Linked DNA regions of Homo sapiens. The protein of the gene in region 2 interacts with the protein of the main gene of each other region in a biochemical or structural test. Each region holds a gene or a part of one and is shown on either strand. Other genes may lie near its edges.

What was found.
Region 1: the proteins of DLG4 (region 2) and KCNA1 form a complex in vitro, tested with the Homo sapiens proteins (3 studies listed by BioGRID and IntAct, with this or other methods).
Region 3: the proteins of DLG4 (region 2) and GUCY1A2 interact in a test that uses a peptide from one of them, tested with the Homo sapiens proteins (2 studies listed by IntAct, with this or other methods).
Region 4: the proteins of DLG4 (region 2) and CYSLTR2 interact in a biophysical measurement, tested with the Homo sapiens proteins (2 studies listed by IntAct, with this or other methods).

Annotation. Positions count from the first base shown.
Region 1 is NC_000012.12:4,904,450-4,912,904, reverse strand, and holds the start of KCNA1 (potassium voltage-gated channel subfamily A member 1), read right to left. Parts: upstream 3,001-8,455; 5' UTR 2,433-3,000; intron 2,066-2,432; 5' UTR 1,527-2,065; coding exon 39-1,526; 3' UTR 1-38. UniProt on the Homo sapiens protein: Voltage-gated potassium channel that mediates transmembrane potassium transport in excitable membranes, primarily in the brain and the central nervous system, but also in the kidney.
Region 2 is NC_000017.11:7,193,628-7,201,373, forward strand, and holds part of DLG4 (disks large homolog 4), read right to left. Parts: intron 3,426-7,746; coding exon 3,130-3,425; intron 2,949-3,129; coding exon 2,846-2,948; intron 2,708-2,845; coding exon 2,593-2,707; intron 869-2,592; coding exon 692-868; intron 374-691; coding exon 337-373; intron 245-336; coding exon 217-244; intron 88-216; coding exon 40-87; intron 1-39. UniProt on the Homo sapiens protein: Postsynaptic scaffolding protein that plays a critical role in synaptogenesis and synaptic plasticity by providing a platform for the postsynaptic clustering of crucial synaptic proteins.
Region 3 is NC_000011.10:107,015,259-107,023,507, forward strand, and holds the start of GUCY1A2 (guanylate cyclase soluble subunit alpha-2), read right to left. Parts: upstream 3,219-8,249; 5' UTR 2,798-3,218; coding exon 2,495-2,797; intron 1-2,494. UniProt on the Homo sapiens protein: Has guanylyl cyclase on binding to the beta-1 subunit. Isoform 2 acts as a negative regulator of guanylyl cyclase activity as it forms non-functional heterodimers with the beta subunits.
Region 4 is NC_000013.11:48,656,692-48,664,437, reverse strand, and holds part of CYSLTR2 (cysteinyl leukotriene receptor 2), read right to left. Parts: intron 1-7,746. UniProt on the Homo sapiens protein: Receptor for cysteinyl leukotrienes. The response is mediated via a G-protein that activates a phosphatidylinositol-calcium second messenger system.

The DNA.
Region 1 (8,455 bases), on a different chromosome or scaffold from region 2:
TGCTAAGTGGGGCTTTTTTGTTTGCTTGCCTTTGTTTTTTAAACATCGGTCAGTAGCTTGCTCTTATTAACGCAGTTTTGGTTAGCAGTGGTGCAATTGGCAGTTCTGATATTGACCTGTCTATAATGGGCTATGCTATTATTCATATCCTCTTCGATCTCCATGTACTCAGACTTGCTCATAGTAGAGGAACTGCGGCGACTGAGGTCACTGTCAGAGGCTAAGTTAGGGGAACTGACGTGGAGCAACTGAGCCTGCTCTTCCCCCTCAGTTTCTCGGTGGTAGAAATAGTTGAAATTGGACACAATGACAGGTACGGGCAGGGCAATTGTTAGCACACCAGCGATGGCACACAAGGAGCCCACGATCTTGCCTCCAATTGTCACAGGGTACATGTCACCGTATCCTACAGTGGTCATGGACACCACCGCCCACCAGAAAGCATCGGGGATACTGGAGAAGTGCGACTCAGCTTCTTCCGCCTCGGCAAAGTACACTGCACTAGAAAACAGGATGACCCCGATGAAGAGGAAAAAGATGAGCAGCCCTAGCTCTCTCATACTAGCTTTGAGGGTCTGGCCCAGGATCTGGAGGCCCTTAGAGTGGCGGGAGAGCTTGAAGATTCTAAAAACCCTTACCAAGCGGATGACCCTGAGGATGGCCAGGGAGGTGGCCTGCTCGCCCTTCTGGTTTCCTTCCTGCTCAGCTATCTCGGTGCCCAGCGTGATGAAATAAGGAATGATGGCCACAATGTCTATGAAGTTCATGATGTTTTTGAAGAAGTCCGTCTTGCTGGGGCAGGCGAAGAAGCGCACCACCAGCTCGAAGGAGAACCAGATGATACACAGCGTTTCCACGATGAAGAAGGGGTCTGTGAAGATGTTGGAATTGTAGATGACCGTGGTGTTGTCGATGCGGTGGACGGTGCCCGTGAAGTCCTTGTCATCCTTCAGCTCGGGGAGCGTCTCCAGGCAAAAGATGACGATGGAGATGAGGATGACCATGACGGAGACGATGGCGATGACCCTGGCGGGCCCCGAGCTCTCGGGGTACTCGAAGAGCAGCCACACCTGGCGCTGGTACTCCTTCTCGGGCAGAGGGCGCTCCTCCTCCTTGATGAAGCCCTCGTCCTCCCGGAACTTCTCCATGGCCTCCTCGCCCAACTCGTAAAACTTGATCTCCTCGGAGAACATGTCCAGGGGCACGTTGACCGGCCTCCGCAGGCGGCCGCCGGACTGGTAGTAGTAGAGGATGGCGTCGAAGCTGGGCCGGTTGCGGTCGAAGAAGTACTCGTTCCTCAGGGGGTCGAAGTAGCGCATGCGTTTCTTAGGGTTGCCCAGCAGCGTGTTGGGGAACTGCGCCAGGGTCTTGAGCTGCGTCTCGAAGCGCAGCCCGGAGATGTTGATCACCACGCGCTCGCAGCACTCGTGGTCGTCGTGGTCGGCCTGCCGGGGGTAGCTGCCATCCTGGGGGTGGCCCGGGGCGGCCGAAGCCTCGTCCACGTTCTCCCCAGACATCACCGTCATGGTGGAAGCCGGGCGCGGGGGTGGGAGGCCAGGAGAGAGCCCGGGGTGGGAAGCAGCCAGGGACCAGGGGTGGGGGGGACCCAAGCGGCCCCCCCACCGGAGCGCGCGTCTCCCTCACGCCCAGGGGGAGGTGCTTCAACACGAGCAGGTCGGGAGATCTGCGACTTTGCCTCTCGCTGCCTTCCCCTCCACCCTGCCTTTCACTCAGTTTGGAATCCCCCTCGCCTGCGGGCCGGGTGCAGCTTTTTGCAGAGGGTTGGGTTTGGGTTTGGGGGTTTGTTGGTTTTCTGTTGTTGTTGTTTAGATATTTCTTCCTGATCCCAGGTGCCTTAACGCAGTGCCGTTCTAGCGGACTGGGCCATTGCTTCGGGGGTCGCCCTGGCCTCCCCTCCCCTCCGAGAGCCTTCCTAGGACCCGGTGCAGTGCCGGCTCGGCAGATCCCCACGCCTGCCACCCTCTCTGCTTCTCCTCGGCTCTCCCCCCTCCTACCCCTCTTCGCCTGCCGCCTTCTAAGCTCCCACCAGGGCGATCGATGCACGCTGCAGAGAAATAGAAAGTGATACGGGGGTAGAAAATCAGAAGCATTCAGATGGGACGGACCTACAGACACCGAAGAACACAGACCTCTAGCTTGAGAAAGCACTGGACGTTTGCTAGGGCTATCACACACACACGGACAGACGACACGCAGACACCCGGAAATCCAAGTTTGGGGCTCTTCCATCCCACTTTCCCCAATGCCCAACAGCCGATCTGTTTACAACTTCGTTAAACTAGAGATCGGAAAAGCGCCGAGAGACGCCGGGGGAAGCTCAGGGTCCCGGACAGCATCCCCGCACCCCCGGCCTCCCCCACCCGGTCCCCCCAACCCCCGCTTCTGCATCCCCGAGCTGGGGAACCCCCTACCTGGCCGGCTGGCTTGGCGCAGGGGCGGTGCTGAGTCAGCGGAGAGCCCGAGTGGGAATGCGGCAGGTCGTCTTTGCAGTGCCCTGGCGGGAGCCGCGGCGGCCGCCGCAGCAGCATCCGAGACGCGCCGGGCAAACTCGCCGCCCTGGTCCACTCGTCCGACGCCCCTCTCAGTTGGACAATCGCTTTACGGAGCAGCTACGGCGAAAATGTTCCTTCCCTACCCCCATTCTCACCGGTTGCCAGCAACCTGGAGACGCCGTCCTCTCTCCGGTGCAGGGAGTTCCGGAGGATGCGGGGCGGAAAAGCAAAATACCACCCTCTCTCGAAGCTCCGAGGCAAATGACGATAAACAGCACTCTCGCCCCCTCCTAACACTATGGGAGCCCTTGATTCGATCCCGAAGGAGGCGGGCGGGCGAGAGCCTGGATCTACATGGCTCTCCAGTTCCCTTCGCTCTCCGCACCCCAGCGCGGACCTCGCCAAGGCTACGCGGCGCGCCAGGAGCCCTTAGGAGCTTGGAGTGGAGCAGGGTGCGTGCGGCGGCGGGTCCGCTCGGTCCATTTCTGGGCGCTGCAAGATCAGCAGAAACCTGAGAAAGCGCCTGGAATACCGAGCAGCGATTGGCCCACCCGGGCGTGGGTTGGGGAGGGCGGGGGAGGGCAGGAGCGAGGAGGTGGATGGAAAATATGAGGGGGTGGTTTGGAAGAGAGCGGGGTTGTCATTCAGTTCCCACCCTTGCCAGCACAGCTTTTTCCTCTCCTACCAGAAAAGCCGACCGCTAACTCTACTTCCCCTGTGGCCCGCCGCCCCGCCCACGAACGGCCCCTAGCGGCTCGCGACCTTCCCCGGGAATTTCACATTGGAAATGGTCAGGTCCGACGCAATGCAGGCGGTGGTGTTTCTGGCAAAACTCCTCCGACGGGTTTGCTTTTGTGCAGTCCCACAGTAACCCTCTTCGATCGCACTGCTCTGCGCCCCATCCCGCTCCTCCCCCAAGAAGGCCCTTGCTCTCTGCGGGGCCCACCCAGCTTCCCCCGCCGGCTGGACTCGCAGAGCTGCAGACTTTGGGCAGAGCTGTGCAGATGAGGATCCCTGGGTTTGTTCCATGTAGTTTTACTGGGCGGCGGCGGTACTAAGAGCCTGTCCCTCTTTAACCTACGATGGGACTTGAAGTTTTCTTACGATCCGATTATTCTGAAATACAGGGAATGTGACTTGTGGGGGACCGAAGGCTTCGTGGGTTTGTGGGGTTGTCTGCCAACTTGGTGCTAATTGGGAATAATCTGAGAAGCAAGTCGCCTACTCACCTCCCACCCTATGTCCCTCCTCCCGCAGCCTTTTTCCCCAGCCTAGTGCCTCCACAGGGCCACTTTCAAAGCTTGCAATTTATTTGGAAAGGGTCCCCCGCAGAGGCGCATGGCAGCAGGAGCCGGGGGCGTGTGCCTTGCCCTGCGAGTGCGGCTGGAGCTGCGCCCCCAGAGGCGCTGCATCTCCGCGCCTGCAGCGCGAGAAAAGGCAGCAGGCAGCTTGGTACCTCCAGGGCTGCGGAGTCTCTAAGGAGGCTGCAAGAGCCCAGAGTCGCCGCTGATTGGCTCCTCCCGCGGCCTTGGGACCACCCTTCTCACCACCGTTGCCTCCCGCCTACACCACCCACCTCCTTAATCAAAGCCAATGATTGCATCCTTCCCGCTCTATTGTGGCTAGTGGAAAGCAGGGGCCCCTGCGGGATTGCCCAGGCAGTGCAACAGTCCCTGTCTGGAACTAGTTAAATCCTTCCTCCAGATTCAGACGCCAGCATTCCTTTCAGAAAAACAAAAGTGTATGTTCCCTCCCCTCCTTCAGATCCGTACCCCAGCTTTTCTTTCATGAACAATGAGTTCTCTTATACTCCTCCTTCCCATATTAAACTCTTCCCCTTTCCCACCTTCCACACGCATATCCCTCAATCTCAATAGCTCCAGGGATCCCTACCTTTCTGCACTGCTGTTCTAATGCAAATAAATATATTTTTTAAAAAAATTTAAAAATAAAAACAAAGATATAAATATGAAGCTCCCAGCTGAAGTACTGCCAAGTCTTTTGGTTTTGTTGCTGCTGCCACTGCTAGAACCCTACTGGGGATAACCCTACGAGACAAGGGTTTTCTGACCATATCCTAGCACTACTGAGCTTCCCTATTCTCCACTTTATCTGTCCTTATCTTGTACCTCCCTCTTCCTATAACCCATTGCCTTCCTTTAAATGTCCCTAAGACTGTCATCTTCCTAGCTTCTTGTGAATGCATGTGCCCTGACTCAGCATTAGGAGATTGCCTTACTACAAGGGATTCACAGATTGGATGAGATCCCAGGTTCCTAAATTCCGGGTTTTATTGGGGGGCATATTAGGAAATCTTCCACATCTCTGATAGATGTGTTTACAGCAGGACTGGACCTCCAAGGGACTGGAAGAAAATTGTGAGCTGGGAACTCAGCATTCTCCTCCTCCTCCTCCTTCTTCCTCTTCCTCTTCTTCCTCTTGTTCTTCTTTGAGACAGAGTGTAGTAGTGTAATCATAGCTCACCGCAACCTTGAAGTATTGGGCTCAAACAATCCTCCCACCTTAGCCTCTGGAGTAACTGGGAGGACAACAGGCACAAGCCATCACTCCTGGCTAACTGGAACTCAGCATTCTTGATGGAAGTCCTCCCTTGGTAAGGGTCTGAAGATATTTATTAATTCAACAAATATTTGCCCAGCCCCAGCTATGGGCCAGATGGTGCCCTTGCACTGGAATGGAGACATATAAGGTCCCAGGTCTCATGGAGCTCATATTCTGGTGGGAGATACAGACAATAAACATATACGTCATACATTATAGTGTTAGATAAAGAAAATTAAGAATCAGGCACAGCAAGTGACAAATATAGGTTTGCAGATAAGAAGGGCCTCTCTGCAGAAGTAACATTTGAACAAAAAACATCAAGAAGAGAGAGCAAGGAACAGGAAGATGAAAGGATGGGTGTAAGAGCAAAGGTCCCAAGGCAAGGACAGACTCAGCATATTCAGGAAACAAGAGAGCCAGTATGGCCAGAAAGAAGTCACTGAGAAAGAATGTCATCAAAGGTAGGTCAGAAAGGCAGGCAGAGCCCAGATCATGCAGGGCCTCTAAGGCTATGGTAAGAATAGTTCATTTCATTCTGAGTACAATGGGAACCTACTGGAGGATATGCATCAATATAGCAATATGATTTGCATTTCTTGGAGATTATTCTGGCTACTAGAAACAAGACACAAGGTTGGAGGTTACTAAGTAGCATAAGCAATGTTGGCTTAGATGAGGGAGACTGTGGTGAGCTTGTAAGGAGTTTTTGGAAGAGAATTACATTTTGAAATAGAGATGGCAGAATTTGGGATGTGAGGAAAGAAAAGTTTTAGGACTGTCTCCTAGGCTTGTGGCCTTAATAACCAGATAAATGGTAATATCATTTACTGCAGGAGTGTCCCAAACAGTTTCGCTCCTACCTAGATGTGAGTTCCTTGAAGTCTGAGATCTTCTGTGTCTTCTGAGATCTTCTGTGTTGGGCAGCTTAGGAGCTCCTTGAAGTCTGAGACCTTGTGTGTCTTAGTTGTCACTGTATTGGGCAGCGTAGGCCATCTCCTCAGATTCTCTCCAGCTCACCATTGTCTTGTCCAATGGCCACTTGCCCCACTGCAGGTGCTGCTGGAAAAGTCAACTCGATGGGTGGCAGAGTTCTGCCTCTTGAAGTTGACAGCACTGCAAGGAGTGGAATCTGGATTCCTCAAGACTGCAAAAAGGCCTAGGTGAGTAACACAAACCTAGGGGTGCATTAGCTCAATGGACCAAGAGGAGCTTGCCCAGTGGGAGATGCAAGCTAGGATGGAGCTCGTCGGTAAATCCCCTCTACCTTTATTATTTTCATGGCCAAGCAACCACATGGTCTAATGAAAAGGCTGTGTCTCTTTGTGACTCATGAAGCAGTAACTAGTTTGGTAACTCTTCTCCTTGGATCTGCACCCTGTCCTTCCCTGTCTCACTCTCCTTTTCTCTTCCTCTCATGGTTCTGGCTTCACACCTCCCATTAAAGCATTCGCACATAATCCTGTCTTGGGTTATGCTTTCTAGGGAAGCTGAGCTGAGGCATGGGGAATCACAACTTTGGTTTGGGACATGTTACCTTTGAGATACCTAGAAATATGCAAATGAGGATGTTGAGTAGAAAGTTAAACATACAAGGTTAGAGTTCAGAGAAGAGGTCTGGGTAGATCAAGGTTTCTCAACTTTAGCACATTTGGGCTGAATACTTTTTATTGTTGTGGGGTGTGGTCCTGTGGATTTTAGTATATTCAGCAGCTTCCCTTGCTTCCAGCCATTAGATGCCAGTAGCACCTTCCCCTAGTTGTGACAACCAAAAGTGTTTCCAGACAATGCAAAAATCACCCTCAGCTGAGAACCACTTGGGTAATTAAAGCCAGAGTAGCAGATTACAGAGATTACAGCACTTGAACCTGAGGGTAGAAAAGGAAGAGGAAATATGCAGAGATCATGCCTTGGGACGCTCTAATGCTGAGAGGTCGATAAAAGAAGGAAGAGCCACCAAAGGAAACTGAGAAGGAGTGATGATGAGGTGAACAAAACAGGAGAATGTGGGGTCTGCAAAACCAAATGAGAACAGTATGTTAAGAAGAAGGGAGATATCAACATTGTTGCTTACTGCCAGTAAGATGAGTAGAATGAGGAACATAGAAATGACTATCAGATTTAGAAAAATTGAGTTGAAAAGAGATTGAGAGAGAACTGAGGACAGTAGGTAAAAACAGCTCTTGGAGTTTTGGTGCCCAGGGGAACAGAAGAATGGGGTAGTAGACTGAAGGAAGATGATGAGTGATGAGACTTTTTTTAAAAAAATGATGAAATCTATTACAATATGTTTGTATGCTAAGGGCAATGACTCAGTAGAAAGAAAAGAAATAGTGATGTGGTAGAAAGAGAAAAATCAGAGCAATGTTCTTGAGAAAGCAAAAGGAGAATGGAATCTAAGACCCAAAATAAGGGATTGGCCTTGGAAAAGGGCAATTTCTCTATAGAAATGGGAGAGAGACAGAGAGCAGAAGTCAGCTGCAAGTAATTGAGTAGAAGTTGTGGGAGTTAGTGGACATTCACCTATGCAATCAGAAGAAATTTTCTCAGTAAAAAGGAAAGCAAGGTCATCAGCTGAAAGTGAGGATGGGGAAGGAGGCCTTAGAAATAGGAGGGGTGGCCAGACGTGGTGGCTCATGCCTGCAATCCCAGCACTTTGGAAGGCCAAAGTGGGTGGATCACTGGAGGTCAGGAGTTCAAGACCAGCCTGGCCAACATGGTGAAATCTGTCTCAACTAAAAATACAAAAATTAGCTGGGTATGGTAGCGTGCACCTGTAGTCCCAGCTACTTGGGAGTCTGAGGCAAGAGAATCACTTTAACCCAGGAGGCGGAGGTTGCAGTGAGCCAAGATTGAGCCACTGCACTCCAGCCTGGGCAACAGAGCAAGACCCCATCTCCGAAAAAAGAAAAAAGCAAATAAAAGAAAAGAAATGGGAGGGGAAAACTGCAAAATAACCACTTAGGAGAATTGGAAAGTGAAAGGGTTGGGGAATGTAGCAGGGTTGCCTGGCAGCACCGAGGGCTCACTTGTGGTGAGGAACCATGCAATTAAGTAATTGGGCACTGGGTGTCTGAGATTAACTTGGAAGTGAGTCAGGATAGAATTCGTCCTGATGATCATTTATGAAAAAATGTGCACTCGTTCTACATGTAGTGTCCTTCTTAAGATCAGTTTCTTAAGTGTTATACAGTGGTAAGGCAAGAGACGGCATGAAGGGAGGTGGTCATACTAGGCAGGAATATGCCCACGGACTCACTATAGACCCTGTTGAGGGCAGTGTCACAAGCAGAGGAATGGGGGTCTTACAAGATTTGAAGTATAATTGTAAAAAGTAATATAGAACAAGTAGGACTTGAAAGGGAAAACTCAGAAGTCAC
Region 2 (7,746 bases):
GCAGCAAGTGCTGGGGCCAAGGCAGGGGCCAGGGCTCACCTTCCATCTGCGTCACTGTCTCGTAGCTCAGAACCGAGTCTTCTCGACCTGGTGGGAGGTGGGGCATCTGCAAGGGGCTCTGAAACAGGGGACCTGGAGCCCTGTCTCCCCCTTGAGGATATCAAAAGCAACTCAGTGCTCCTCTCACCCACATCTTCCCGAACTAACCCTACCTACCCTGCGATCCAGAGCTGGAGCCCCAGTCCTAAGAAGAAAAAGCAGGCCACGGGGTTAGTTATGAGCTCAGCTCCATGAGCCCTCACACTTCCACCCAGGCTCACACCCTCCTCCACCTACCTTGGCCTTTAACCTTGACCACTCTCGTCGCTCAACCCTGTGGGATACATGGAGGGATACGCGGGTAGGGGAATGCCTACCCCCTGCCACCCCCATGCTCTGAGCCAGCTGACAACCCCTTCTCCATACTCTGGGCCAGCTGACACCCCTTCTCCTGCAGCCCTGGACACTGTGCTCCTCAATAAGGAGTTGTCCTTCCCAAAGGCTCATGGGAGCCACGGACCCCAGGAGGGCCCAACAGACAAACCCCTAGGAGTTCAGAGGGCAAACCCATCCCCTGTTGGCTGCCCACCCCGGGGGACCTTGGGAACTTCAGTGCCTGTGGCAGGAAGGCTACAGAGCCCAGGAGCCTCACCGCCGTTTGCTGGGGATGAACCCAATGTCGTCGGTCTCACTGTCAGAGTGGACCCGCCGTGCCTGCCACCACTCCTCATCACTAGCATCGATGACATGCAGCACATCCCCAAAGCGGAAGCTCAGGGCCTGGCTCAGGAAGCCGCAGTCCTTGGTCTTGTCGTAATCAAACAGGGCCCTGGAGGGCAAGTGGCTATCGGTCAGAGCCCAGCTGAGGACTCCAGGAAGGATGCCCCAGTCACCCAAAGACCCGGCCCAGAGGTCTGCAGATGGCACTCCCATGGGAGCTATGGATGCCGAGGAACCCAAAACTGTGTGGGGACCAAACGCTGACTATAACTCATAACAACTATTAGCCATCACTCAGTCCACACTGAGCACAGTTTCCAGAGGCAGGGCTTGAACTTGACCCTCTCAAGAAAGCAGTTTGGGCCAGGCGTGGTGGCTCCCACCTGGAATCCCAGCTGACTTTGGGAGGCCAAGGCGGGCGGATCACAAGGTCAGGAGATTGAGACCATGGTGAAACCCCGTCTCTACTAAAAATACAAAATATTAGCCGGGCACGGTGGCGGGTGCCTGTATTCCCAGCTTCTCGGGAGGCTGAGGCAGGAAAATGGCATGAACCCAGGAGGCGGAGCTTGCAGTGAGCAGAGATCACGCCACTGCACTCCAGCCTGGGCAACGGAGCGAGACACCGTCTCAAAAAAAAAAAAAAAGAAAAAGAAAAAGAAAAACAGAAAGCAGTGTGCAGTACACACGCACATCATAAAGTCACAGGGGTAACCCTGAATCTGCCCAAATTCATAAGAAAAAGAAAATGTCCCGTGTTTCCAAATAATGGTTACCCTTACCAGTATCAAATTTCTATCAGTAAGTCACAACCCCTGGGGTCAGAACCAGGGAAGTAATGAAGACACAGAAGAAAGCAATGGGCCTGGAGAGGAGGGAGGAGACCCCGGGCCCCCTGGAAGTGTGACAACCAGATGACATTCCGCCTGGGAGCCACTACACAACCTCTGTGGTCACTGGGAGTCAGAACAACCTTGGGGACCAACCGGACCCGAGCAGGGAGGAAGGGCAGAGCAAGGGCTCAGGTGGGAGCCAGTGTCTGGGTGGCTGGTGATGCCATCCAACAAGAGGGAAACTGCTGGCACAGCAAGATGGAACCCAGGCCCACAGCAGGATGATGAGCTCAGCGTGGGACATGTTGAGTGTGGGACGCCTGTGGGACATCCCAGTGGAGATGGCCAGAAAGCCAATGGCCAGAAGTGCAGGTCTTGACCTCTGGAAATAGGTCAGCCAGGGCCAGCACCTCCGAGAGACATCTGCAGAGCGCAGCGGCAGACGAGGCCATGCAAGCCACAGGGCCAGACAGGGACAGAAGTGGAGGGGTGACCCCCGGGGGCGGGAGAGAGGTGTGTTTTGGCAGAAACCTAAGCCACAAAAAGAGTCAATGGAGACGAGCCCTAAGAGGGGAGCAAAATGCCGCTGGAGAGACGGGGGCAGGCACCACAGAGCTGCGGCCCACGTCTCCGGGACTGCCCACAGGGACGTGAAGGCTGGGGCAACACTCCAAATACCCTAGAGGACCCTGCTTCACCAAGCATTAACCTTCGAGACGCCAAATTGTGGGGTGGCCTGGGAGTCCCGGGGAAGTGCTGGGATGACCAGGGGCTAGAAGGCAATTGGGATACTTGGGGCAGAGGCTATTTTCCCATCGACAGGGAGTATTTCAAATGTTAACCTGTGCAGCCAAGCCCATGAACCCTGGCTGCGCCTCAGGCCTGGGGTGGGGAGCTAGAGCAGGCAGGGTGGAGAAGAGGAGCGGCTGAGGCCCGGGCCAGGCACAGAGTGCCCAGGAACGCAGAGGGGCTGAGGAGTCCAGCCCGGGAAGCCTCTGACCTGATGTAGAAACCCCTTTTGGGGTTGCTCCGCAGGGACGCAGTCCCTGAGCCCAGGCTGCTGTTCATGAGCTGTTCCCGAAGGTCGTGGATCTTGGCCTCGAATCGGCTGTACTCTGAGGAAGGACAGGGAGGTTTCTGAGCTCTGTCCCCATCCTACTGTCACCCCTGTCCTCCCCTACTGAAGCCATCAGCTGAGGAAGAGTTCTAAGGGCCATTTCAGCTCACAAGACAAGGAACTTCCGGCCTGGTACCTTCTGGTTTATACTGAGCGATGATCGTGACCGTCTGACCCGCATTCTTCAGGGCAATGGCAGCCTGCTCATGGCTGGCATTTCGGAGGTCCACACCGTTGACCTAGAGAGAGGACGACAGGCTGTGTCACCAGAGACAGGAGGCAGCACTTCTGGGTCCAGGTGGAGCAGGGAGTGGTCCCGCAAGAGGACTCGGCTGCAGCCCATCCAGGCCCCTCCCCAAGAGCTCTGCGCTCTGCCCTGTGGGGAGGGGGTGGTGCAGGTAGGGGCAGGCCTTCCCTCACCGACAGGATCTGGTCCCCCTTCCGCAGCTCCCCACTGAGGTCTGCAGGGCCCCCGGCCAGGATAAAGGAGATGAAGATGCCTTCACCGTCCTCGCCACCCACGATGTTGAAGCCCAGGCCCGTGGAGCCCCGGTGGATCACAATTCGCCTCGGTTCTCGGGGAATGTCTTCCTCCCCGAGCAGGTCCTTGGCCACTGGAGAGTAGCGCCGAGGGGAAGTGGGGGTCATGGCTGTGGGGTAGTCGGTGCCCAGGTAGCTGCTGTGACTGATCTCATTGTCCAGGTGCTGGGAATAAGCTGAGGAAGACAGGGCAGAGATGAAAGTGCCTGGAGGGAAACAGCACCCGCCACCCAACCTTCTCCCCAGGGTGCCAGAAGAGCCAAAGTTAGGTGGAAGGGAAGATATTCTGCCAGAGATGCCAGGGTGGGGTGGTAAGGGGATATCAGATCACAGTGACATCAGGGGTCAGGAATTTATAGGTGACATCAGAGGCTGGTTGTCCTAGGGGATAAAGGATTTGAACGTTATATGTCCTCAGTATGCCAGGGATGGGGAAGTCAAAGGGAGCATTAATATTACGCTTTGGGGGTTTTCTCTGGGTTCCTGTGTCACTCGAATCTCTTAATCCATAAAATTCTTCTCCCTCTTTTTTCCCCCCACCTCTCTGCCATCCATTCGTTGAAAAAACTAGGTCATTTGTCTAAAAGAATTTCCCACATTCTATGAGGGAAATTCTTTTGTTTTTTTGGGGTTTTTTTGAGAAGGAGTCTCAGGCTGGAGTGCAGTGCCGTGATCTTGGCTCACTGCAGCCTCTGCCTCCCAGGTTCAAGTGATTCTCATGCCTCAGCCTCCCAAGTAGCTGGGATTACAGGCGCGCGCCACCATGCCCAGCTAATTTTTGTATTTTTAGTAGAGACAGTGTTTCACCATGTTGTCCAGGCTGGTCTGGAACTTCTGAACTCAAATGATCCACCCGCTTATGCCTCCCAAAGTGCTGGGATTACAGGCATGAGCCACCTTGACCAGCCTATGAGGGAAATTCTAACAGGGAAATTACTGCTTACCCTCCTGTGGTTTGTTTAGCCTATGCCTCTGCCCCTGTATCTCCTGTAAACTGGCAGTTCATTCTGGAGGCTTGATCAGTTTCAAGTTCAATTCAGAGTTTTTTTTAGTAACTCCTGTATACTTCATAGGTAGCGCTACGTTCTTCCTACAGCATCACCACAGGATGCAATAATGCCTGGTTGTCTTTCTGTCAGGTAAGATTAATGGTAGGTTCAGGGTCATCAGCCCAGTCCATCCATTATCTAGCGCCCCATCAGCCTTTCAGGTAAGTTTTAGCCACACTGACAATCACCGCCTGGTTCTGATAAGTATCAAGGACTGCAAAATGGTGGTGATTGTCATTTACTAGTGGGAATTCTTCTGTAAAAAAGAAAAATCTCGACCAGGCACGATGGCTCATGCCTGTAATCCCAGCACTGTGGAGGCCAAGGCAGGCAGATCACTTGAGGTTAAGACTTTGAGACCAGCCTGGCTAACATGGTGAAATCCCGTCTCTACTAAAAATACAAAAATAGGCTGGGCGTGCTGGCTTACGTCTATAATCTCAGGTACTCGGGAGGCTGAGGCAGGAGAATTGCTTGAACCCAGGAGGCGGAGGTTGCAAGGAGCCAAGATTGTGCCACTGCACTCCAGCCTGGGTGACAGAGCGAGACTCCCTCTCAAAAAAAAAAAAAAAAAATTCCTCCAGCTTGGGTAACATGGTGAAACCCTATCTCTACAAAAGACAAAAGTTGAAAGTTAGCTGAGGCTGGGCGCAGTGGCTCACGCCTGTAATCCCAGCACTTTGGGAGGCCGAGGCAGGTGGATCACAAGGTCAGGAGTTCAAAACCAGCCTGGCCAAGATGGTGAAATCCCATCTGTACTAAAAGTACAAAAATTAGCTGGGCGCAGTGGCAGGGCCCTGTAATCCCAGCTACTCGGGAGGCTGAGGCAGGAGAATTGCTGGAACCCGGGCGGCAGAGGTTGCAGTGAGCCAAGATCGTGCCACTGCACTCCAGCCTGGGTGACAGAGTGAGACTCCATCTCAAAAAAAAAAAAAAAAAAGTTAGCTGAGCATGATGGCACTCGCCTGTAATCCCAGCTACTCGGGAGGCTGAGGTGGGAGGATCGCTTGAGCCCAGGAGGCGGAAGTTGCAGTGAGCCAAGATCACACCACTGCACTCCAGCCTGCTGGGTGACAAAGCAAGACCTGCCTCCAACAAAAAAAAAGCAAAAACAAAAACAAAAAAACAGCCCTATGTCAACCTGTTGGTTACTCTCTGAGGTAGCTGGTACATGAAAGGGAGGATAAATGCATGCCTCTCTCTGCATGCCTCTTTCCATTCATTCACCAATTTCAGAATGAATGAGATTGCCTAGCATCCTCCAATTTTTTTTTTAATTATTTATTTTTTTGGGATGGAGTTTCACTCTTGTCGCCCAGGCTGGTGTGCAGTGGTGCGATCTTGGCTCACTGCAACCTCTGCCTCCCAGGTTCAAGGGATTCTCCCACCTCAACCTCTCCAGCAGCTAGGATTACAGGCACCCACCACCACGCCTGGCTAATTTTTTGTATTTTTAGTAGAGACGGGGTTTCGCCATGTTGGGCGGGCTGGTCTCGAACTCCTGACCTCAGGTGATCCGCCTGCCTCAACCTCCCAAAGTGCTGAGATTACAGGCATGAGCCACCGCGCCCAGCCAAAATATTTTTAAGTATTATTATGATCTTAAAGATTTTAATATATTTAACGAGTTTTCACTGGACAGTAGAAGCACCTTCAGTTTGGATCCTGTGTCTTTGCTGAGACCCTATTAGTCCTGGATACCTTCCTTGCTCTCTAGTATGAAAGAAGTTAGAAGCTCATCTTACAGATTTATTGCCAAAGATTTTAAATTGGCTGGGCACGGTGGCTCAGGCCTGTAATCCCAGCACTTTGGGAGGCCGAGGTGGGGGGATCATGAGGTCAGGAGATCAAGACCATCCTGGCTATCACGGTGAAACCCCATCTCTACTAAAATATACAAAAAAATTAGCCAGGCGTGGTGGTGGGCACCTGTAGTCCCAGCTACTCGGGAGGCTGAGGCAGGAGAATGGCATGAACCCGGGAGGCGGAGCTTGCAGTGAGCCAAGATCGTGCCACTGCACTCCAGCCTGGGCGACAGAGCGAGACTCCGTCTCAAAAAAAAAAAAAAAAGAAAAGAAAAAAAAAGATTTTAAATTGACCCTTCTTCCAAGGAGCCCAGGTTCCTTTTGTTAGGTTATGGTATTTAGGAATAGTACCACATGATTTTAATATGGTTTTACAGTATTATTTCATATTTTGTAGGGGCTGCCACACCTCATTATTTGTTTCCAAAATGTCTTAGCTTTTCCACACAAATTTTTCCAGTCAAACTTTAGTGTCAACCTTCCAAGTTCCCAGTAGGGAAACAACATTAAAATTCTGATTAGGATTGAATGGAATGTAGATTAATTTGGAGCCGGTTGAGATCTTTAGCATATTAAGTTTTTCCATCCAGAGACACGGTGTGACTCCTCACCCCTTCCAGTCTTGTTTTATGTCTTTCAGTAAAGTTTTGTCATTTTCTTCATACAAATCTTACATTTCTTGTCAAGTTTCTATTTCTAATAATTTTATAGAAATTTTTTCTATGGCAAAAGGGGGCTTTTTATTCACTACATTTTCTTATTGCTGGGAAGTTACTAATTCCTGTTATTTATCTTACAAATAGCCACATTCCTTTTTTTTTTTGTCGTTTTTTGAGACAGAGTTTCACTCTTGTTGCCCAGGCTGGAGTGCAATGGCGCGATCTCAGCTCGCCGCAACCTCCGCCTCCCAGGTTCAAGCAATTCTCCTGCCTCAGCCTCCTGAGTAGCTGGGATTGCAGGCATGCACCACCATGCCCGGCTAATTTTGTATTTTTAGTAGAGATGGGGTTTCTCCATGTTGGTTAGGCTGGTCTCGAACTCCCAACCTCAGGTGACTCACCCATCTCGGCCTCCCAAAGTGCTGGGATTACAGGCATGAGCCACCGGCGCGCCCAGCCTGTTTTGGTTTTTTTTTTTTTTTTTTTTTGAGATGGAGTCTCGCTCTATCGCCCAGGCTGGAGTGCAGTGGTGAGATCTTGGCTCACTGCAAGCTCCGCCTCCCAGGGTCAAGGAATTCTCCTGTCTCAGCCTCAGGATTAGCTGGTATTACAGGCGCTCGCCACCACACCCAGCTAATTTTTTTTTGTATTTTTAGTAGAGACAGCGTTTCTCCATGTTGGCCAGGCTGTTCTCAAACTCCTGACCTCAGGTGATCCGCCCGCCTTGGCCTCCCAAAGTGTTGGGATTACAGGCATGAGCCACCTCGCCCAGCCAACAAATAGCCACATTCTTAACTTTGCATATTTTTCCAGTTAATTCACTTAGATTTTGATCTAGATGCACAGTAGTATAATTTACAAATAGAGATAACTTTTGTTTTTCCCTTCCAAATGTAACTATTCTCCTTGTCTTGTTACACTGTCTGAAATCTCTAAAGCAGTGATTCTCAACCACCATAATTTCGCTGGGGCAATTCTGTCATA
Region 3 (8,249 bases), on a different chromosome or scaffold from region 2:
GCATGGAAAGTATATAGAGCTGTTGCATTTATTTGATCATCACAATTATTTTTAAATTGCTTATTCTGAAAACCATTCTCTGGATACATTCTTTTCATCCAGCAAAAAGCCAGTCATTCAAATTTAACTTATAAAAGTAACCATCAGAGACTATTTCCTTCCTCTTATTCTAGCAGAAAATACTGCATTTCTCAGTTTCTTTTATCTACTCCTCATGTAAGTTGTTGAAAATAGTCTTAGCTTAAATTAGCATTATCAGAGGCATTGACATTACTTTTTAGAAATCTGTAAATTCTCTTAGGCAAAAAAAAAAAAAAAAAAAAAAAAAAAAAAAAAAAAACCTCCAAGGTTATATCAACAATTCTCCCCAAACTAATCATTATCTTTAGCAAAATCATTTCATTAAATAAGAATCTGTTGTACTAAATAACTATTTTATTGCACAAATGTTGCTTTAAGTACTGACACAAGCCTACAGACGCTCGGGGTCATTGGACTCCTGTTGTAAATAAATATTTTCAACAATTTGCAACATCAAATAGTTTATAAAATTACGCTGCCTGGGAAATATTGGCAGGGAAGAACAGCAAAGAGTAGCCAATCTATTCTGAGGATTGTTTTCTAGGTTAATGATGAAAGAAAAAGTGGCAGAAAGATATATCAAATACGAAAATACACAAGAATAGGAAGATGACTGTTTCTCAATATGTGTTCCTAAGAATTAAATTAGTTCAAAATAAATAATGTAATAAGTGATTTATACATCTTCAATCAGGTCTCGTAAAAGAAAAAAATCATTCTCCATTAATACAAGTGCCACAAGAATATTTGTAGACCTGTCTGGTACCCGTACTCAGTCCCCTCAGGGTTCCACTCCTTCTTAGGTCCCCCCTACCATCATTTGCAGTAGTAATCTCAAAAGAGAGACTCAACAGTAATCAAACAAGATCAGTGTTCAGATTCATTTCGGAAACTTTAAAAAAGTAAAAGTCCTAGGGGTGGGCAGGTGAAAGTGCTGTCAGGAGGAGCTAAAGCTCTTGTATCCAAGGTCAGGGTGAGCATAAAAGATGGGTGGAGGTTTGACGCTGAATCTTTTTCAAATTCTGTCTGCAACAGAGTGGATTTCTTTAAAACAGAGCTCTCCCAGACACGGTAAGATTGGATCAGAGGTCTGGCATTCCTGCAAGAGGTAAAAGCCAAGGGTAGCTGAAATGCCTGGGCAGGAATAAGGCAGTACTCCTCTGGAAGGATGCCTACAACCAGGGGGAGTTTGTTGTACACCTGAAACTGCTGATACAGACATCCCAAGATGACCACAAGTTTGGAGAGGCATTTATTCATTCCACAAATATTTAGGAAGGGCCTAATATAAAGAAGCCACCAAAAAATGAGAGAGAAAGCACTAGAGAATCAATTGAAGAGAGAGTAAAGGATGAGGTGCAGGTGCAAGAAGTACAGAGCGGTTTAAATAGCTAATGTGAGAGAGAAAGCACTAGAGAATCCATTGAGGAGAGAGTAAAGGATGAGGTACAGGTGCAAGAAGTACAGAGAGGTTTAAATAGCTAATGTGAGAGAGAAAGCACTAGAGAATCCATTGAGGAGAGAGTAAAGGATGAGGTACAGGTGCAAGAAGTACAGAGCGGTTTAAATAGCTAATGCATGCGAAGCTTAATACCTAGGTGATGAGTTAGTAGGTGCAGCAAACCACCATGGCACACGTTTGGTACCTATGTAACAAATCTGCACATCCTGCACATGTAACCCGGGACTTTAAATTAAATTTAATTTAAAAAAAAAGAAATCCAGACACCAGGTTTACCCAGAGAAGAATAAATGCCTAGTGGATAAGAAAGAAAAAGAAAAAAAGCTACGGGGTGAGGACAACTCGAGATTAGAGATTACTTGAACAGAAGGCAACTCAGAAAAGTATCTGGCAAAAAGTATCTGAAGATGTGAGAAAAAGGATGCAACATAGAATGCAGATAGCCTGTGGAATTCAAAGATGTCAGAGAAGGTCACGCTAAGACCAAGAGAGTGTGGGAAATAAGGAGAGGAAGGGTTTCCTGGAAGGGGTTGGGGCTCCTTTGGGATGCTGGAGAACAGGATGAAAGACAGGGAAGCTGAACTGCAGAACACAGTGCCTGGGAAAGTTTAGGGGAAAGAAAACAGGTGGGTGTGAAGCAGCACTGGGGCTGTCCAGGGGGAACAGTGGTGAAGTAGGGTTCAAGGCTAGAGGTGGGCAGACAGGCCCCCGAATCAGGATACCCCAAAGGAGTGGAATCTTATTCCTTCCCAGTGCTGTAGTCCCCTCTTCCGCCCTAGCCTAGGGGATCCTCTGTCGCCGGAGCCACTGGAACCCTAGGCCGTGCAGGGTAAGGCCGGGCCGCCCCCCAGCGGTCGGGCTCTGCGCTCGCGCCCCGGCTCGCCCAGCGCCAACTTTACAGATCCGCGTTCTCTCCCCCGAAGGCGGTCCCCCCTTCCGCCCCCCGCTCACCGAGGGCGCCGTCAGGCGGCTGATGCTCTCGCCCAGCGAGTCCAGGTTGACCCGCCTCCGGCGCTGCACCCTCCTGGCCCCGGCAGTGGCAGCGGCGGCGGCGGCAGAAGCAGCCGGGGTCGGGGCCGGGGCGGCGGCAGCGGCAGCTGCGGCCGGGCTGGGCTCCAGCGGCCCGGGCGGGCTCCGGCTGCCATTCCAGCAGAGCCTAGACAGGGGGCACTCCCCCTCCTCCTCCGGGCTGGTCTCCAGGTAGTCGGAGCCCAGGGAGCTGAAGGACTCGGACGAAATCTTCCTTCGAGACATGCTGCCGGCGGAGCTGCAGCGGCCGAGGCGGTGGCGGCGAGGACGCGAGCGGCGGCGGAGGCGGCGGTGGCGGGACCGGCAAGCGACAACGTTAAGCGCGTCGGGGCCGCGGGGCGCTGCGGTCGCGCCCGGCGGGGCGGGAGTCCCCGGGGCCGCGGAGCCCCCCGAGCCGGCTGCTCATGGCGGGAACTTGGGGCGCCGCCGCACCTTGGGGCCCGGGCTCGGCGGCGGCGCCGGGCTGGGCTGGGGGCCGCCGCCGCCTCTGCTGCTGCTCGCGCGGCGCCGCCTCAGCGCCCGCCTCGGCGCATCGCCGTGCGCCGCGCTCCCGCTCACGGGGAGGCTCCGAGAGTGTGTGACCGCGGTCGGCGGGGCGGGGAGGGCTGCGGCCCAAGCAGAAGGGGAGGCAGAGGCAGAGGCTTCTGCCGCCTGCGCGCCTATCTCGCCCCCTTTCCCTCTCTGCTCCCGCCTCTCTCCACTTGCTGCCCTGCCTCCCTCCTTCTCCCTTTATCCCCCCGCCCCCCCCCATGCTCTCCCTCCGCGGGAATCACGTGTCGCCATCATACTCATTGGGAGTCTCTGCCTCGCCTGTCGCCACGTTTCAGGAGCAACGAGGACACTTCGTTGCTGTCCTCTGCGCGCCCTCCCTGCTCCGAGGAGGTGCGCACAGGAGCTCGGGTCGGACTGAGGGCCCCAACCCCAAACGCCTTATCCTCGGCCCTCGGGAGCAGATGGGTCCCGGCGGCGCTGGTGGGGAGAAGGGCTCGGGGCTGGGGGGCGAGAGGCCTCCCCCTGGAGCCACCTTGGGGAAACCTGACAGTGTGAAGTGGGGGTTAGGGTCCATGTTGTCCTTTCTCCGAGTTTATTTAGGAAGTTCCGAGGCAAAAGGGAAAGGCCAAGCGTCCAGCCAGCCCACTCCAGAGGAGACGCTTTCAGGGGAAGGGAAGGACAGGGGCAACATTTTGGCGCCCATCCTGCTGGAGCAGCTCCTGGGGACTTGTGTTCCCCGCCTCGTGCGAGGCCGTGTGGGCGCGGAGCGAGCCCAGAAAGGGGCGGCAGTGAGGACAGCGTCTGCTCTGACAAGACAGCACTGTTGCTGAGCCTCAGCCGGGCGGGGTGCGCGGGGCTCCCGGCTCCGCTGGCTCCTCACTAGTGCTGGACAGCTCCGCTTGCCACCTATAGCCGCCTTTGCAGGCGTTGAGAACTGGAGAACAGTTCCTCCTCAAACGACCTAGCACCTGGCCCGGGGGAAACCGGGGAATGATCCCACGTCCCTCATCCTCAGGGCTCTTTGCGCCAAATATGCGATCTGTTTGCACCTGACTGCAAATGCTGCTCAGAAAGCTAAGGGGAGTAGGGATAAATGCTTCTCGAACTGACTCGCCACAGCGCGAGCATGTCTTGCCGCGAGTTTTCAGCTGTGCGGCTTCATTCCAAAGCTTATCTCTTTGCAAACCAGTCCTTCCAGCGCCTGACCCCACTGCCCCTTGCCTTAGCCCCAGAAAACTCTCATACTGGTTCTGAGGATAGAGTAAGAGATGGGAAGAAGGGGCAAATGACAGTATCCCGAAAGGGGTTCCAGGCTGTACTTCCCCCTGCAATGAAGTGGATGAGCACCCTCCCCAGCTCACCCGATCTGCGGAGAGAAAAGTTTAGGGGCTCTGGCTTTAGTTTCCCAGTGAAACCGAAGCCAAAGCGTTTTTTTAATTAAAGAACTGGTCCTTCCAGGTGAAGGCAGATGGGTTTTTGTGGACTGTGTTTATTTAAAAAGCAAAACAAAACCAAACCACAAAACCTGTGCTGTACCCCCACCACAATTTGCTTTTAACTTCAAATCTTCCCAAGTGTTTGTTAGGGCTTAAATATAAATGCTATTTGAGGTTTCATTTGGAAAAATCCACTCAAACTGGTTCAGAGACATACCTTTTTCCCCAGATCTTAAATGGGCTTTAAAGATAGAAAAGTGTGTACTATCACTCAGACACTCCCCCTTCAAATTATATATATATATATATATATATATATATGTGTGTGTATATATATGTATATGTATATACATATACATATGAGAAAGAATATATATAATATATATTCTTATATATATGTATTCTTTCTCATCCTGAGGAAGTTTCTTTTAAAATAATAATTGTTACAATTATTATTTAAACTGTTGTGCATCTACTATTGATTTCCCCATTACTTCAATTAATTCTATGTGCATTTGTGTCCATTGAAAATTAGACTCAAATTACACTTTTAATCATAAAAAATCATCAGTTTTGCTAAAAAAGTTTCACTAGCCCCTTTTTCTAAATTATAATGAAAATTACATTATTCTAACTTTGGGGTAATTGTTTAATATTTCTGCTACACAGTATCAATCAGCATAAAGGATTGGAGTTCCTAGTTCTCTTCTTTGGTACTGATTATATAATAGTCAAGTTCTTTCGAATTATAGGATTTTAGTTAGTATTAAATATACTAAATAGCATGTGTCCTTCACATTCTTTCAATAAACTGCTGCGCACACAAATAAATATTATGGTAACGGCAAATAAACTTCATATTGAACTTAGAATTGGAACTTTTTATTAACCATTCCAACTCTTGTCTCAAAGTCAAAATTATTGAGTGCAAGGCAATGAGTATCATTTGTTTCTAAAATTTGTAAGAGGCCCAAGAGCCTTCCTGTTTACACTGGAAGTTTATTGCCAGAAAGAACTCTGAACCTATGGGACATTTTTTCTTTGTGTGAACCATTTGAATCAAAGACTCTTTACAGAATCTAGCCAGATGAAGTCGTCTTACAATTTTCTCTATGAATTACACCCTGCCTTTGATCATTATTTTCCCATGGATTTTTAAACTATAAACAAATCAAGGCCTAGATATAGCCAGTACAACATCTGCTTTGCTTTCAAGGGTTTCCTTTGTATTTCTGTTCAGGAGCGGGGTTCAAAAGCTCTCAATATGAAGAGTGCTGTGTTTATACTAGAATTGACATTTTTAAAATGAAGCATAGCTATTCTCCATTAAAAAAAAAGAAGAAGAAGAAGGCTTACAGTTAGCAAAAGCAATCTAAATACTTTAGGAAGAGTAGTCTGCTGAGAATGAATAGTCTGTGCTCTGATTTTAGGAAAAGAAGCTTGCCCAAGCTCATACCCACAAATCCAGCCCTGCTGGATATATTGTATTTCAATAAAGTATTTAAAGGCCACTCTCCAACTGGAAAAGAAAAATGCAGAAATATTCTTGGTTTATTTGTGAAGTTGGCGTAGGCACCTGACAACTCAGATTGATCAAGCATTGGGAAAGACTTCCTAAAAAAACAGATTCTTCACTTTAGTCAAGACGATGACTATTTTACATTGAAACATAAAGTAACTATTGTTTGTGCGTGCCTTCCCTTCACATAAATCAATCCTATTTATAAACCCTTTCACTTATATAGCCTCATTTAACCTGATTTTCATCCTTCTCAGAGAAGTTGTTGAAGAAAAGTCACGTGTGTCAAATTCAAATCAAAACCACAATCAGTCCTCCTTCCCAAAATTCTTTGCGTTTCCCAGGTTCAAACTCTTTACTAGTTTCTTTTCATCTAACACTCCAGCAAGAAAATCTGCAAGATTTGCATAAGCGTTCCCTGGAGCAGAGCTCTATCCTGATAGAAGACTGAAGAATTTCTCCCTGTCATTCTTTACATAAATCTGGCAATTCACAGGAATTGTACATGTAATATTAAAGCAAGTTTTCTAAAGAAATATAGTAGCTGGTGAATCCTTAACTAGGGCAAGTTTTTCTGGATCCCTAACCTGGAAAATCACACACACATACACACACACACACTTCACACTGTTCACCTGCTAGTTTAACCCTATGTTTGTGTTCGTGAATGAGATCTGTCTACTCTCTCACACTTAACATACCCCCTCTTTTACAAGAGGGCAAATGTGCTTTCTCTGAGAAATACTGGCAGCAAATAAGAGATACTGTACTTCATATTGTTGCACAATTTTGTAAGTAAAACTAAATATTAAGGAGGGCAAATGTGCTTTCTCTGAGAAAGACTGGCAGCAAATAAGAGATACTGTACTTCATATTGTTGCACAATTTTGTAAGTAAAACTAAATATTAAGGATAATATCAAAGTGAGAAGAACCATCTGCTGTGTTCACATATAAAGGGACACATAGAAGACAATGTAATCCATTGTCCTATAGTTATATTTTATCATAAAACCATCCCAAAGGGGTAGGATTCTTGCTGCTCAAAAAAGGATAGAGGAGGAGAAGGCTGGGGGAAAGGAGGAAAGAAAGAAAGACAAGCAACAAAGTCAATGCTACACTTAGTAGAATTTGTGACCCAGAAAGATACTTAAGGGTGTAATAACTGACTTTTTTTTGATGCATCAAATCCATGACAGCAAGAAAGAGGCAGGTGATCAGTGTATGTTGGTGCCTCTGGCAGACACTACTCTCTCCTTAAGTGGCTTTACATTCAACCATGCACCACAGGAATCCATCCTCCTCTTAAGAAGAGACCCTATTAGTCAACAGTTTGAATACTAATATCAGCACCACAGTCTCCTACAACTCTCAGCCTTTTTGTCTGCATACTCAACAATCCCAGGTCTCTATACACTTTATTTAAATTGGGATTCTTAATCCCAACATAATAGGACATATTTTTCCAATTATAAAGTTATGGAAATTCTGGCACAGAGATTTAAAATATCTTCCAATGTCATGGAGCTGATAAATATTAAAGTCAGAATTCCAATCCTGACTACTAAGCCCATGCTATTTCCACTGAAACACTTTTCCTGCCTGTCTCTTGTCCTCAAATGTCCTAAAAACAGATTTTAAAATATGCTGAATTAAAATCACAATGTGAGTGGGTTATTGCATTAAAATAAATATTAAATACACAATTAACTTGTATGAATTATGTCCTGGAACATAATGTGGAAAAGCACTGACATGTGCAGAAGTTCTACAGTTCTCTGCTGATAACTAGCTCTGTGACCAAAATCAAGTTGTTAACTGCTCTGGGACTCAAACCCTTCACCTCTAAATCAAAAGTGTTGGATAAAATCCTTAGGTTATCATCAATCCTCAAAATTCTGTAATTTTTCTATTTGTTGAACTGTTCATTTCCTTTCCAGATATATCTTGTGCCTAAAAAATGTACCCACATACATCATCATAAGGTTAGATTCTCTTTTTCTTCCCTGTCATATCCTTTCTGAGAATTCAATTCTTATACAGATCCCTCCTTAAACCACCCAAGATCCTCTCCTGATACAAAACTGCCATGAACATGGTCCATGGAATTAAATGGATAAAAAAAAATTTTTCAACTGAATCCTATTTGGTTAGATGCTCACTATCTCTCTGTCTTTTCATAACCTAATTCTTCTGTCTGCTTTATTGTATTATATAAAGGAATTATATCT
Region 4 (7,746 bases), on a different chromosome or scaffold from region 2:
TTTTACTGAATCTTTAAAGAAGAATTCATATCGGTTCATCTAAAACTATTCCAAAAAATTGAAGCAGAAGGAATTAATTCTTCCTAATTCATTCTATGAAGCCAGCATAACCCTGATACCAAAACTGAATAGGGACATAACAACAACAACAAAAAAAACTACAGGCTAATATCCCTGATACGTATAGAAGCAAAAATGCCAAACAAAATACTAGCAAACCAAATCAAACAACATATCAAAAACACAATACACCATGATCAAGTGGGATTTATCTCAGGATGCAAGGATGGTTCGACATATGCAAATAAATAAACATCATACATCACATCAATAGAGTGAAAGACAAAAGCCATATGATCCTCAATAGATGCAGAAAAATCTTTTGATAAAATTTAAGCTCACTTCATGATAGAAACTTCTTACAATTAGGTATAGAAGGAAAGTACTTCAATATAACAAAGGCCACATGTGACAAACTCACAGCAAACATCTTACTAAATTAGAAAAAGTTGGAAGTTTTTCTTCCAAGAACAGGGACAGACAATGATGCTTACTCTCACCACTCTTATTCAATATAGCACTGGAAATCCTAGTCAGAGTCATTAGGCAAGAGAAATAAATAAATGGCATTCATATTCAAGAGAAAGAAGTCAAATTGTTCCTGTTTACAGATGATAATCTCATATATAGAAAGACTCTACCAAAAACTCTTAGAACTAATAAATCATTCAATAAAGTTGCAGGAAACAAAATTAATATACAAACATCAGTAGTGTTTTCTACACAAACAATGAACTAGCTGGAAAAAAAATATCAAGAGGGCAATCCCATTACAACAGCTACAAACAAACAAAAAACAACCTTAGGAAGAAATGTAACCAAGGAGGTGAAAGACCTCTACAAGGAAAACTACAAGACACTGATGAAATAAATGGAAGAGGATACAAACAAATGGAAAGACAACCCATGCTCATGGAGGAGAACTAATATTGTCAAAATGACAACACTATTCAAAGCAACCTACAGATTCAATGCAATTCCTATCAAAATACCCATGACATTCTTCACATAAATAGAAAAAAGTTCTAAACTTTGTATGGAGCCACAAAAGAACCCAAATAGCTAAAGCAAACCTGAGCAAAAAGAACAAAGCTGGAAGTATCACACCACCAAACCTCAAAATACACTACAGAGTTATAGTAACCAAAATAGCATGTTACTAACAAAAGCAGACACATAGGCCAATGGAACAGAATAGAGAATCCAGAAATTAATCCAAATATCTACAGCAAACTGATTTTTGACAAAGGTGCCAAGAATACTCATTGGGGAAAAGACAGTCTCCTGAATAAATGGTTCTGGGCAAACTGGATGTCTATAGAAGAATGAAACTAGGCCCAAACCTCTCACTCTACAAAATTTAACTCAAAATGGATCAAAGACTTAAATATAAGACCCAAAATGATAAAAACTACTAGAAGGAAACATGGGACACACATTTCAGAACACTGGTCTGGGAAATGATTTTGTGAATAAAACCTCAAAAGCACAGGCAACAAAAGCAAAAATAAACAAATGGGATTATCAAACTAGAAAGTTTCTGCACAGCAAAGGAAGCAATCAACAGAGTGAAAAGATAACCTACAGAATTTGAGAAAATATTTGCAAGCTACTAATCTGACAGGTGACTAATATTCAGAATATACAAGGTACTCAAACATCTCAACAGCAAAATATTCAATTTTAAAATGGGTAAATGATTTAAACAGACATTTCACAAAGAAGACATTCAAATGGTCAACAGGTATATGAAAAAATGTTCAACATCACTAATCATCAGTGATGATTTTGCAACTCAAAACCACGATGAGGTATCATCTCACCCCAGTTAGGATGGCTATTATCAAAAAGATGAAAAAACAAATGTTGGCAAGGATGTGGAGTAAAGGGAACTCATGTGTTGTTGGTGGGACTGTAAAGTAGTATAGCCACCATGGAGAACTATATGGAGGTTCCTCAAGAAACTAAAAGTAGAATTACCATATGATCCATCAGTCTCACTTGTGGGTACTTGCCCAAAAGCTTTGAAACCAGTTTGCCTAAGAGATGTCTGCACTGACATGTTTACTGCAGCACTATTCACAATAGCCAAGTTATGGAATCAACCTAAGTGTTCAACAACAGATGAATGGATAAAGAAAATGTGGTATATATACATAATGGAATACTATTCAGCCATAAAATGGAATGAAATCTTGTCATCTGTGGCAACAAGGGTGGAAATGGAGGACATTATGTTAAGTCCATTGTATTTCCTAAACCAGAAACAGAAAGTCAAACACCATATGTTCTCACTCATATGTGGAATAGTAAAAAAAGTTGATCTCATAGAAGTAAAAAGTAGAACAGAGGAAACCAGAGGCCTGGAAGAGTGGGGGAAAGGGAGAGATTTGGTAAAGGATACAAAATTACCACTAGATGAGAGGAATAAGTTCTAATGTTCTATACCACTGTAAGATGGCTCTAATTAACAATAATGTATTAAATAGTTTCAACTAGTTCAAAGGAGGATATTGAACGATCCCAACAAAAGGAAATGATAAATATTTGAGATGATGGATATGCTAATTACCCTGATCTGATCAATATACATTACATGTATAGAAACATCAATATATACCCCATGAATATGCAATTATTATTTGTCAATTTGACAAATAAATTAAAATAAATAGAAGTGTTCACAGGAGACAGTTGGTGTAAGGTAGCAGGCCACATCTGCCACTTACTGGCTGTGAGATTTTGCAGAAGTGACCTATCTTCTCTGAGCCTCAGTTATGCCATCTATAAATGGCATAATAAATGTGAGTTGTCTCATACAGGGTGAGCGCTCAGTGATGTTAACTATTATTATTAAACCTCAGAATTGGGACCTAGAACAAGCATTAAGGAGGCAAAATTTTTGCAGGGCACTAGTAAATATATAAAAACAAGGCTGAGAAATGATTTAATGATAAAAAATGGTGAGAAGCATGACAGGTGTTGCTCTCAGCTGCAGGGAAGCAGTAACAGAGCAGCAACCTCAGGATTTAAATCCTGATTTGTTCACGGACTACCTCTATGACCATGGGAAAATGACTTTATCTCCCTCGGCGTCAGCTCCTTATCAGTAAAAGGGGGTAATGCGGCCAGGCAAAGTGGCTCATGTCTGTAATCCTAGCACTTTGGGAGGCTGAGGCAGGAAGATCGCTTGAGCCCAGGAATTCAAGAGCAGCCTGGGCAATAGAGCAAGACACTGTCTCAATAAAAAAGAAAAATTAAAAAAAAAGATTAATTTAAATAAATAAATAAAAGAAAGGGGTAATGCTAATAATAGTTCTTACTTCATAGGGTTGTAAGGATGAAGTGAGATAATACATGAATGGCACTTAGGTCAGGGCCTGGACCAGAGAAAGTGCCATATTAAGTGTTAGCTGTTGTTATTGCAAAGGCTGACAGAATAAGCTCTCTGAAGTTGTGCAGAGAGGATTCTGCAACACATTTGTTCCTCAAAATCCCAGAGGCCTCAGAGTGCTGAATTAACACGGCCCTCCAGAACAGGGAAGTATCACTGAGAGTTTACTCTTGAGACCCAAGCTGACAACTCAGAGTTTATTTGTAACAGGCTCCAAATGTCATGTCAGAAATGCCAAGCTTTCTAGACCTTCCTGGCCTTCCAAGAACGGTCTTGTGCTTTCAGAATTTTTTTTTCAAAAAGTCAAGGTGAATTAAGTTCTTGGAGATCAAAACAGAAACACAGATAAAAGGAACTGAAATTGTGACATATTTTGAATGTGAAACGGAGCTGGTCTCTGAGCTTCCAGAGGAAGTGGGATGGAGGGGAATGAATCTCACAGGGCCTTGTTTTCATGGACTCAGTGCCTTGGAGAATTTTGCTGCACTGATTTTTCCTCTACCCGGTCACCCACAAAGTGCCTCAAGGAGCCCCCAAAGTATGAGTCACTTCATTGGCCACCAGGCTGGTGACCCTTTGCTTTCTGAATGCCATTTATTTCCACATGCCACTTAACCATGAAGTCAGCACTTTGGGCCATTGGTGAAGAGTTTTCTGGCAGATCTACTGTTATCTCCCAGAGAACAACTTATCCCCAGGGATGTAGCAGGGATTGAAACCTAGCAGAAGTTTGGCATCCAAACATGCCAGGGGACACCTCTGCCCTCAAGAACAAGATGTACAGCATTACCTCAGACCTCCTTCTTCCCACCTCTGTCTTTACTAATTCTCCTTGTTTCCTTCTTTAATAGACTCCAAAAGCTAGCTTCTCTTGCACATTCATCCTACCACTAACATTCAGCCACCAAATAAACAAACAAAAATTCAACTCAACAAAAACATCATATATGAAGAGCCCTGAGCTGCTTAGAGATATGGCTTCATTTTGTTTAAAAACATTATTTTGACTAAATGTTGCCCTCTCTCTGGCTCTCAAAACTTTCCTCAGCTCTCCTTGGTTAATATAACACATGAGTCTATGATGCTGATTATGAATTTAATTTTCGTAAAAATCTCAACAATATGTTTTTCATTTTCTAATGCACTTCATCCTTGTATTTAGAAAGGTTGGCGGTATCTATTATTCACCAAATGTCTGATCTAAGGAAGACCACAGAATCACAGAATTGTTTTTTATCTGAGTCTCTGATTTCCAAGACAGAAGAACAGCAAGTGTTATCATAGAAACATTGTCCTGTTTATTCCAATAAATCCCTACGGATTGATCAACATTAGGGTCCTCCCTGTCCATAATCAAGGTAACTAAATGACATGACTCAGGAGCTCCTCACAAGCCCATTTATTCAAATTAAAACTCCCTCTCATTCTCATTTCCCCTAGACAGCATTTCATATTCCATTATTAAATTCAATTCTTAGAGAAAAGAAATTATTTACAAAGGTAGTTTGTTAAACATCATGTGTATTTCCTAAAATGACATAGAGACATTGCGATATCATGGAAAACCTCTGGAATAAATCCCAACTGAACCCAAATCCTAGCTCTTCCTTGTGCAAACTGTGTGACCATCAGAAAGTACTCAACATCTCAGAGTTATTGAGAGGACCCCAGGAGGCAGCACAGGTGACAGCCAGGGATGCAGCTACACTTTGCCTGGCACCATGCATTGTCATTCCTGTTGCCACCCCACCTGCTGCCAGTGGCATGGGGGCAGTGGGTATCTGAAATCTAAAGGAGAGAGGGCCAGGAGCAAAAGTAAACCATGGGCTCTCCTCCTCTCCTGCTTGTCCTGCTGCCCAGTGTCTCCTCTGTGGCAGACCTGGCCTGTTTACCCAGCAGCCTCCATCAACTTCCTCCTTTCATCTCAGTGGTCAGCTCAAGACCGGCCTAGTACAGGCTGTCATCTTTCACCTGCACAATGGGCACAGCCTCCTCAATGGCTCCCTATCTCCACTCTGGCTGTTCTCAATTCATTTTTCACACAGTGGCCAGAGTGACCTTTCCAAAATGCATATCTGACCACATTACTCTTCCACTTAAAACCCATTATCATCTCAGAGTCAAGTTCATCTCCAGGCTTTTCATAGTATTGATCTTGTTGTCCAGCATATTCTCTCCCCACCATCCCCTCAGTAAAGGACACTCAGTCTCATGAAGCTTATTTCAAAACCCCCAACACTGCAGGCTCTCTCTTGCCCATTTCTTCTGAGCTCCAGCTCATTTCCTGGCTATTGCTTACCCAGTCTCAGGTTTCTTTCTAAACATCACTTTCTTCAGAAAAAGTCTTCTCTGATCCCTCCATGTCTTGGCTGTTTGCAGACCCTTGGGTTTCCCATCCAGCATTTACTCCAGGGGCAGCAGTTGTCTCCTGTCTATCCCTACCCACCAGACTGTTTGCCCATGGAAGGCAAGCACGTGTCTACTGCTGTACCCCAGGCCCTAGCACAGCGTGAAGCACATGAATGTGCTCAGATCAATAAATGAGCTAATGAAGCTGTTATCCAACACCCTCATTTTATGCCTTACAATTAATATCTTTTTGGGGGGCGGGAAAGAACTCACATGGTTTTTATAATGAAATGATGTTAATGTGTTTTTCCTTGAAAATTTTCTTTTCCTGAAATTCAAATCTAAAGTCTGGGAAGAGGAATATAGGGTAAATGGTCAATGGCATGGCATGGGAGCAGAAGGCAGCCACAGAGGGTACCCAGATGGTGCTCTGTTCTAAACACTGTAGGAAGCAGCACCCTTTATATCTTGGAGGGTAGCAGACTGTTTCTCTGACTCTGTGCCAACAAGTTCCCAATAGGGATTTGTGCCTCTTACAACTAAAAGGGAGTCACCTTCATATCTCTCAGTGAATTTACAAAGGAACAGTGAATTTACAAGAGATTTACATATCTCTCAGCGAATTTACCTTATTTTTAAGGTAAGACTCAAAATAAAGAGAAACCAGCTTACTTAAAAGAATCTGGGATACAATGTTATTCAGGTGATGGTTACCCTAAAAGCCTTGACTTGACCACTACACAATTTATGCAATCTATACGTCTAATAAAATTGCATGTGTAATCCATAAATTTATACAAATTTAAAATACTTTAAAAATAATAATTTGACAAAAGAGAAAAAAGAATCTAGGATGCCTTCAAATACTCTTTAGATGATTGTTTTTCTGTACTAGAGGTACAAACAAGGTACGATGCTGTTTCTACAGCCTCATGGCAGGAGACTTACGTGGGAAATTATCTTTTTTATAATAAATTCTTATTTATATAATGTACAATGTAGGTAATAATGGTGGACTAAATTATTTTAATTTCTCCCAGCTTAATTAATATTTAAACTTCCAGAGTAAACCAGCTCCCTTCCCCTCTTTTCCTCTCTCCTTTTCCATCTCTTTCCCTCCTCTCCCCTCTCCTCTACTTCCCTCCTTTCTCTCCTTTCTTCTGTTCTTTCTATAGTCTGCTTCCTGTACTTTTTTGAAACCTCTCCGTTAAGGACTTTACACTAAAGAGGCAAAAAAAACTCTGCCTCTGGTCCCAGCTCTTCCTAAGGACCCTTCCGACTTTGGAATTTCTTGACTCCAACTCACTGCTTAGACCCTTATCCTGGGCCTCTCGAATAATAACTAGATTTCTTTGTCAAAAGACTGACTGTACTGCCACAAAGTCATCAATCCATTGGAAGAGGTTTTCCTTTAAATTCTGTCAAGATTATATTTTCTCCATGGGTCAATTAATATAAAGAGGTTAATAAAGTTCAACAGAGATAAACATTAGCTGTAACTAATAAAGTCTGCATTCATTGGGTGAATTGATTTATTTACACAATGCCTTTATTCTCAATGGAGTTTATGTGCTAGGTTCTATGCAATGACTCCAATGTCAGAGTCTTGGTCCAATAGAACATACTGTACATAAGTAACTGCAGTACAAAGGAGGCAGTGGCCAATACCCTGAGAAATAAAGAAATACAGTGCTAGGGGTTTCTGACATGGATTTCAAAAAGCTCTCTAGCAACGCTGAGCACCCACAGCAAAATGCTTGCCTTTCTTTGTATTATCCAATTTGGCTGCCGCATTAGCCAGAGTTCATTGGGTAATTGCACAATCCCTTGTGAGGCTTTTATCTTAAAGGCTTACCCTTGGGGAACTAGAGTGCCTCAGATATCTGGTGCACAGAGCAAACTATAGAAAAGCAGAAAGGATCTTTGATTCTGGAGTACACAGG